Linked DNA regions of Homo sapiens: region 1 is linked to region 2. The links come from fine-mapping of genetic effects on gene expression. Tissue or cell type: whole blood. Region 2 holds a variant in brackets; the other region holds the start of a gene. All regions are shown on one strand. Distances are from middle to middle.

Region 1 (4,360 bases), 310 kb after region 2:
ACAGAATGAGACCCTGTCTCAAAAAAACAAAAACAAGGCCGGGCACAGTGGCTCACACCTGTAATCCCAGCACTTTGGGAGGCCGAGGTGGGCGGATCACACGGTCAGGAGATCGAGACCATCCTGGCTAACACGGTGAAACCCCATCTCTACTAAAAAAATACAAAAAAAAAAATTAGCCCGGCGTGGTGGCGGGTGCCTGTAGACCCAGCTACTCAGGAGGCTGAGGCAGGAGAATGGCATGAACCCGGGAGGCGGAGCTGGCAGTGAGCCCCAGATCATGCCACTGCACTCCAGCCTAGATGACAGAGCAAGTCTCCGTCTCAAAAAAAAAAACAAAAAACAAAAAAAAAACCACAAACGAACAGCCCCTGCCCTCCCCCCAAAAAAGACAAACTGCATCTCACACACAGGTGACCCCTGTGAATACAGTCTCTGAGGAGTGATGGAAGAGGAAGCCCTGTGAGAGGTGCAGACTGCTACCCTCTAGAACACCAGGATGCCTAAATAGTAGAGGGCAGTTTCATTAGCGACATCAGTTTGCAAACTGAAAAGAGACACTCTCCTGTAGGTACCAAAGGTGCTCTCTCTTTGTATAGGGAAAAGGCAGGCTGGTTGTTTTTTGTTTTTGTTTTTTGAGACGGAGTCTCGCTCAGTCGCCCAGGCTGGAATGCAGTGGTGCGATCTCGGCTCACTGCAACCTCCACCTCCCAGGTTCATGCCATTCTCCTGCCTCAGCCTCCCGAGTAGCTGGGACTACAGGCGCCCGCCACCACACCCAGCTAATTTTTTTGTATTTTTAGTAGAGACGGGGTTTCACCATGTTAGCCAGGATGGTCTCAATCTTCTGACCTCGTGATCCGCCCGTCTTGGCCTCCCAAAGTGCTGGGATTACAGGCGTGAGCCACCACTCCCGGCCTAGGCTGGTTTATGACTCACAGGGTCTGTATTTCACAATAATCATACATATTCAGCAGGTTTTGGGGAAAAGCTATACATATTTATGAGGGGATGTGAGTGCATGCACAATGGGTAAACACCTGTAACATATGTTCCATGTTCACTTTGGGATGGGGTTTTTGCGTTAAAGTGAGGTGGAATTTGGTTCTTTGCATCATAAGGTGGACTATAGGACACAAACACAGTTTGCGTGCAGTCTCTATGAGCTTGCTGAAACTGGCCTGAGGTCTGCAGTTACTTATCAGGAAAGAATGTTTGTAAGGCCTGTCCTCTGTCGATCAGCGTTGTAGTGGTCTGAGTTGTAAATCTCAGTAAAGAAGAGTCTGACAATTTGCATGATAGCTCCTATTGCTAGGGGTTTAGTAAGAGTGTGGTTTTTCTGGCAGCAGTAGAAATTTAAGAAGTTGCCATGCCAGCTGACAGCTGAGCCCTGAGGTAGGCAACGTTTGTTTCCTTAACCTTAACCTTAAGGTCCATCGTAGTTGATAAAAAGGCATCTGGCCAGGCCTGATGGCTCACGCCTATAATCCCAGCACTTTGGGAGGGTGAGGCGGGAGGCCAGCAGTTCTGGGGCCACTGCACTCCAGCCTGACAGACAGAGACCCTGTCTCAAAAAATAAATAAATAAAAAAGATAAAGGGGCATTTGTCTTGATCGCTCAGATCACACAACTAATAAGTAGCATTCTTTCTAAAAGCCGCAACAATGCTACTCCTCTCTTATAAGAGCTACTGTGTAACTCCTGCCCAACTCAAACCCACAGGCCCAGGCTCAGAACACTTGGCTCCATTGCTTCACTGTTTCCCTGCTAGCACGAACCCCCCAAACTCCATCTCCCAACATGCCGCGGGCCCCCTTTCTGTCAGCCTGACTCTTGAGCTCCTGAGAAATGTAGTTTTTCCAGCGGCCCAGCCCCAGAAAGGTCCTAGCCAAGAACTACAGTTCCCATGTGGCAATGCGCGCGCCATTCCGGTGGAATTCACCGCGGTCTCCAGTTTGCCATGATGGATGCCAGAACCTGCACGTGGGGCTTGGTGACGCGATGACTGAGATGCTGGAGTCCCCGGTCAGAAGGACGATGCCGAGCGCGCCGTATTTTCTCCTGCCTCTCCTCAGATCGCCGCCGTTGTTGGGCTGTGGAGACGTCTCAACCAAAGTGGAGCCGACAGAGGCCCCGGGAGCCGTGGTGACAGAGCGGCCACAACCACTAGGGGGCGGGAGGCAGAGCGGCCCCTAGTCCGCCCCTAGTCCGGGACCTCTGGGCGGTCCCGGGCGGGAAGCGCACGCGCAAACGCGGGGCTTCGCGGCCGCTGTAAACACCAAAGAGCGCCTGCGCAAGCCGAGAGTCTCGGGATCGACACGTGGGGGCGCCTGAGCGAAGATAACCGTAATAAATAGTAACCTAACGGTCCAGTCATCGTTCTGTGGTCCTTTCTTTTATGATTCACAAGGAATGACCCTCTTCATCGCCTCTCCTAATTCAGTCCTCACAACAGTCCTTTTACAAATGGGACAACAGGTTAGAGGAAGTCAGGCAGATTTCCAGCATCATAGAGAGTAAAGGACCAGGGAAGGATCAGGATTCAAGGACTGCACCCAGGCTCTGCTTCCAGCTTGCTGTGTGACTTTGGGTAATTTTGTTCCCTTAGGGAACTGAGCTTTCTCATTTGTAAATGCAAACAGGCTGTTGGGAGGATCAAATGAGATCCAGGGGTGAAAACAGCTTAGTTTACTTTCAGGAATTTACCCACGCGGTATATAAAGGCAAAATATTATTATAGTCAGGTGATTGTAGATTGAGGAACCCATTTCCTCATTCTGCAAATTGCAAACCTGAGGGCCCAAAGAGGGACAGGGGCTTGCCCCAGGTCTCAGCAGGCTGTGAGCAAGAGCTAAAGCCTAATCCTCCTGCCTTTGGGCCTGGAGCCCTTCCTTGTACCCCAGGGGTCAGTGTCTTTGTTGGATACAGGCTTAGATTGACTGACTGTACCCTGAGAACCTAGGGGAGTCCCTGTTCCCAATTCTTCTCCTACCCCCACCTTGGCCTGATGGAGGAAGACCCTGCTGTGTTGAGATGAGCACCAGAGCCAAGAAGCTGAGGAGGATCTGGAGAATTCTGGAGGAAGAGGAGAGTGTTGCTGGAGCTGTACAGACCCTGCTTCTCAGGTCAGTGGCCCAAGTAAGGGAAAGAACCCAGGTGTGACAGATGAGGGGGCAGCACTAAGGGGACAGACTCTGAATGGAAAGGAGTGGGAAGGCAGTGGACACTGTTTCTGAGCTTGGGAGGAATTGGGTACTCAGGTAACTCCATCTGGGGGCAGTGGAGCTGGAGGTGATACCTGGGCTGGCCTGGCTGATGAGAAGGGGAAGTGATGCGCATTGAGCTGAGGTCTAGGAGCCACTCCCCAGCCAGGTGAAGCGAGGTGGCACCTAGGCACACCATGGCACCTGCAGGATCATGCAGCTAACCCCAGGGAAGGGGACTTTTCTCTGACCCTTGGAGCGGTGGAGCTGGGCTGTATGCAGCTGATTCTCTCTAGAGTGCTCTTAGAGGTTTTGGGGGTAGGTTGGGGGAAGGGCTGGGAGACCCTGAGGTCTCATTACAGATTGGGCCTCCCCAGGCAAGTCATGAAAGGCAGGTATATGTAGAAATAGAAATCCAAGATCCTTCAAGATATCCCAGATAGGCCAGGCACGGTGGCTCACGCCTGTAATCTCAGCACTTTGGGAGGCTGAGGCGAGCGGATCACCTGAGGTTGGGGGTTGAGATCAGCCTGACCAAAGTGGAGAAACTCCATCTCTACTAAAAATACAAAAAAAAAAATTAACCGGGCGTTGTGGCGGGCACCTGTAGTCCCAGCTACTCGGGAGGCTGGGGCAGGAGAATGGCGTGAACCCGGGAGACGGAGCTTGCGGTGAGCCGAGATGGCGCCACTGTACTCCAGCCTGGCTGACAGAGTAAGACTCTGTCTCAAAAAAAAAAAAAAAAAAAAAAAAAATTAGCCAGGTGTGGTGGTGTATGCCGGTAGTCCCAGCTACTCGGGAGGCTGAGGCAGAAGAATCGCTTGAACCCAGGAGGCGGAGGTTGTCGTGGGCCGAGATGGTGCCATTGCACTCCAGCCTGGGCAACAAGAACGAAACTCCGTCTCAAAACAAAACAAAACAAAACAAAACACAACAACAAAAAGGTATCCAAGATAATTCAATGGAATTATCTGGAGGTGGATCTTGGATTCACCTCCAAGCATTTAATTATCTGGGCCTTCACTTATCATTTCTGTTTTTCAGCCAGAGAAACTGAGGCTAAAGAAGGAAAAGGACCTCTTTTTTTTTTTTTGAGACGGAATTTCACTCTTGTTGCCCAGGCTGGAGTGCAAGGGTGCGATCTTGGCTCACTGCA
Region 2 (4,720 bases):
AAGAAATTGAAGAGGACACAAACAAATGGAAAGATATTCCATGTTCATGGATTGGGAGAATCAATATTGTTAAAATGTCCATAGTTTCTATAGCAATCTACAGATTCAATGCAATCCCTATCAAAATACCAATGACATTCTTCACAGAAATAGAAAAAGCAATTCTAAAATATATATGGAACCACAAAAGACCCAGAATAGCTAGCCAAAGCTATCCTGAGCAAAAATAACAAAATTGGAGGAATCACATTACCTGACTTCAAATTATACTACAAAACAGCATGGTACTGGCATAAAAACAGACACACAGGTCAATGGAACAGAATAGAGAACCCAAAAGCAAATCCATACATCTACAGTGAACTCATTTTCGACAAAGGTGCAAAGAACATACATTGAGGAAAGGACAGTCTCTTCAATAAATGGTGCTGGAAAAACTGAATATCCGTATGCAGAAGAATGAAACCAGACCCATGTCTCTTGCCATATATAAAAACCAAATCAAATTGTGTTAAAAACTTAAATCTAGGCTGGGCGCGGTGGCTCACGCCTGTAATCCCAGCACTTTGGGAGGCCGAAGCGGGTGGATCATGAGGTCAGGAGATCGAGACCATCCTGGCTAACAAGGTGAAACCCCGTCTCTACTAAAAATACAAAAAAAAATTAGCCGGGCGCGGTGGCGGGCGCCTGTAGTCCCAGCTACTCGGGAGGCTGAGGCAGGAGAATGGCGTGAACCCGGGAAGCGGAGCTTGCAGTGAGCCGAGATTGCGCCACTGCAGTCCGCAGTCCGGCCTGGGCGACAGAGCGAGACTCCGTCTCAAAAACAAAAAACAAACAAAAAAAAAAACTTAAATCTAAAATCTCAATCTATGAAACTGCTAAAAGAAAACATTAGGTAACCTCTTCATGGCATTGGACTGGGCAAAGATTTCTTGAGTAATACTACACAAGCACAGGCAACCTAGCAAAAGTGAACAAATAGGATTACATGAAGTGAAAAAGCTTATGTACAGCAAAGGAAACAATCAACAAAGTGAAGAGATAACCCACAGAATGGGAGAAAGTGTTTGCAAACTCTTTATCTTACCAGGGATTAGTAACTAGAATATGTAATGAGCTTAAACAACTTCATAGGAAAAGATCTAATAATCTGATTAAGAAATGGGCAAAAGATCTGAGTGGACATTTTTCAAAAGAAGTCATTGACAAACAGGCATTTGAACAGGTGCAACATCATTGATCATCAGAGAAATGCATATCAAAACTACAATGAGATATTACCCCAGTTCAAATGGCGTTTATCCAAAAGACAGACAGTAACAAACACCGGCAAGGATGTGGAGAAAAGGGGACCCTCAGACAGTGTTGGTGGGAATGTAAATTAGTACAACAACTATGGAGAATAATTTGGAGTTCACTCAGAAAACTAAAGATACACTTGCCATACAATCCATCAATCACAGTGCTGGGTATATATCCAAAAGATACCCATGTCGATTGCAGTACTGTTCATAGTAGCCAAGATTTGGAAGCAACCTGAGTGTCCATCAGCAGATAAATGGATAAAGAAAACATGGTACATACACACAGTGGAGTACTATTCAGCCATAAAAAAGAATGAGATTCTGTCCTTTGCAACAACATGGATGGAACTGGAGATCATTATGTTAGTGTAATAAGCCAGACACAGAAAAGATAAATTTGCACGTTGTCATTTATTTGTAGGAGCTAAAAATGAAAACATTTGAACTCATGGAACTCGAGAGTAGAAGGAAGTTTACTGGAGGCTGGGAAGGGTAGTGAGGGTGTGTGTTTGTGGGAAGTGAGGATGGTTAATGGGTATAAACAATTAGAATAAGAAGTAGTATTTGATAGCACAACAGGGTGACAATTGGATTGTTTGTAACACAAAGCGTAAATGCTTGAGGCGATGGATACCCCATTTACTCTAATGTGATTATTACGCATTGCATGCCTGTATCAAAATATCTCATGTCCTCATCTATATATACACCTGCTGTATACCTACAAAAATTAAAAATAAAAAAAATGGCCAGGTGTGGTAGCTCATGCCTGTAATCTCAGCACTTTGGGAGGCCGAGCTGGGCAGATCACAAGGTCAGATCGACTATCCTGGCCAACATGGTGAAACCCTGTCTCTACTAAAAATACAAAACTTAGCTGGGTATGGTGGCGCATGCCTGTAATCCCAGCTACTCAGAAGGCTGAGGCTCAAGAATTGCGGAGAGTCTTGAGAATCAAGAAACCCAGGAGGCGGAGGTTGCAGTGAGCCGATATTGCGCCACTGCACTGCAGCCTGGTGACAGAGTGAGACTCCATTTAAAAATATATATATATATATAGCTTTTCTAACAAAAAATAATAGAGATGTGAAGTGGGCTTTAAAAAGTCGAGTCCAGGATATCTGGTGGTAGAGTTTTAATTTTCCACAATACAGGTATGTGTTGCTTAATGTCAGGGATATATTCTGAGAAATGCATCATTAGGTAATTTCATCCTTGTATCAACATCATAGAATGTACTTACACAAACTTAGAGTGCGTAGCCTACTGCACATGGAGGCTCTGGTCTGTTGTTCCTAGGCTACAAACCTGTCCAGCATGTTACTGTACTGAATACTTTAAGCAATTGTGATACAATGGTAAGTTTTTGTGATTCTGAAC[G/A]TAGAAAAAACACAGCATAAATATGGTATTCTAATTTTTGGGGACCCCACTTGTATATGTGGTCCATTTTTTATGGAAATGTTATGTTACTGTATTTATTTATCAATAAGTTTCATGACCCTGCAACAATGTTAAATTCTTATCTACTGTTTTGCTTAAAGTTGTAGTATTCAGACCTGTTGCAGGGATTCTTTCACTTCCTGTAACAGTTTGCACTTCAGGGTTCTTTAACAAGCAGAATACTGATTTAAGAGCCTAACTGGAGGAAATTCTTGTTTCTTTTTTCTTTTTCTTTTTTTTTTTTTTTTGGAGACAGAGTCTCATTCTGTCACCCAGGGTGGAGTGTAGTGGTGCCATCACAGCTCACTGCAGCCTTGACTTCATGGGCTCAAGCAATCCTCCTGCCTTAGCCTCCCGAATGCTGGGGATATAGGTTTATGTCACCATGTCCAGCTAATTCATGTGCTTTTTGTAGAGATGGGTTCTCACTATGTTCCCAGGCTGGTCTCGAACTCCTTGGCCAAAGCAGTCCTCCTTTTATGTTTCTCCCCTCAACTCCTCCGAGGTCCAATAAGGGAAATTTCAAGATTTTGTAAAATTAATTATTTACTTTTGGCCTCAGTTACTTTTTCTGTGAACCACAGATGTTCTCCACATAATTTCTAAAGTTCATCCCAGTTCTCTGATTTTATGATTCTGAATAATTCTGGAAATCCTTGGATGCAAATATTAGCTTGTATACAGACCTGTGAAGATAGAGGCCTTGCTTCTGCCAGGTATCTTCTATAGGTATCTTATTTACCAGATACTTTGTCAGATTTATTAGAGACCTGAAATACAATGCTTTTTCTTCATTCAGACTTAATAGATTCAAATATTATGGTTAATTCTGCCATAGACCATTTATTCAAATATTTTAAAATCTCATTTTTTGTATGATTATGTAAAACTTAAAAATAATTAGTATAATTTGAATTTATTAACACAATTATGTAAGACACCTATTGTGAGTTTTTGTACCACATATTTGTAGCCTAATAATAAATATTTATTGAGTTCTTTATGTTTTTCAAAGGACTTTTATATCCATTTATTTTACTTAATCTTCAGAACTGCCTAGTAAGTATATTTTGTAGATGTAAAAATTGAGGCTTAGAGTAGTAAAGATACTTATCCAATGTTAGGATTAGAAAGATTTAGATCTTATGATTTCTTCTCTATTCCCTTTTCACTTCCCAAGTTATCTTTCTTTTGGAGTTCTTCCCTAGGAAAGTAATGTTACCAAATAAAGAGCCTGGTAGATTCTGGGGCATGGTGGTGTCTTATATAGAGGGTGTACTGTAGACAGTGGAAGGGAAGGTGTGATAAAGCATGGAGCTAATGTAAATGATTATTATCCTGTTTCATTGTCCTTATTCTCTTTATCTTTGGCTTCATTTTTATCACCACCTTTTATAGCACATTATTGTGGAAAGAGTCTTAGATGAAATTGATACTAGGTTCTTTTCCTAAGTCTTCCCCCCACCTAACCAGAGCTACTTAGTAGCAATTTTATGTGTGTCTTTTAATTGCCCTGATTTGTACTTTCCTCATTTATGGAATGGGAATAACCTATTCTGGTTACCTTATAGAGTTATTGTCAAGTCAGGTAGGATAAGATGGGAAAGGACTTTGAAAAACTTGAAGTACTTTACTAGCAGGGATTATTATTGTTTTTACATGACAGCCTCTGTGGCTTGGTCTGTTGATAGGCTGCTTTGAAATAAATGCATTCATTTAAACGTGTAAAACTATATTGTAAAATATAGATTTTCACCATTTGGTACTATAGCTCTCTTGCTTTCAATTAGTAAAGTTGGCCAGGCACGGTGACTCAGGCCTGTAATCCCAGCACTTTGGGAGGCCGGATCACTGAGGTCAGGAGTTTGAGACCAGCCTGGCCTGGTGGTGAAACCCCGTCTCTACTAAAAATACAAAAATTAGCCGGGTGCGGTGGCACGTGCCTGTGGTCCCAGCTACTTGGGAGGCTGAGGCAG

What was found. PIP is the estimated chance that this variant, and not a neighbour inherited with it, causes the effect.
Region 1: STARD10 starts here. The variant in region 2 is fine-mapped to the expression of STARD10 in whole blood (TOPMed, PIP above 0.99). The same link has a PIP of 0.9 or more in blood mononuclear cells.

Annotation. Positions count from the first base shown.
Region 1 is chr11:72,791,641-72,796,000 of GRCh38, reverse strand. It overlaps STARD10 (StAR related lipid transfer domain containing 10), which reads left to right and starts at 1,954. Exons shown (of 7, transcript NM_006645.3): 1 at 1,954-3,126. RefSeq lists enhancers at 1,629-2,198, 3,330-3,829.
Region 2 is chr11:73,104,679-73,109,398 of GRCh38, reverse strand. The region is part of intron 2 of FCHSD2 (FCH and double SH3 domains 2); the gene reads left to right. Among named protein-coding and RNA genes, the nearest start is that of FCHSD2, 35 kb to the left of the region's middle. The variant G/A (reference allele first, on the strand shown) is at 2,685.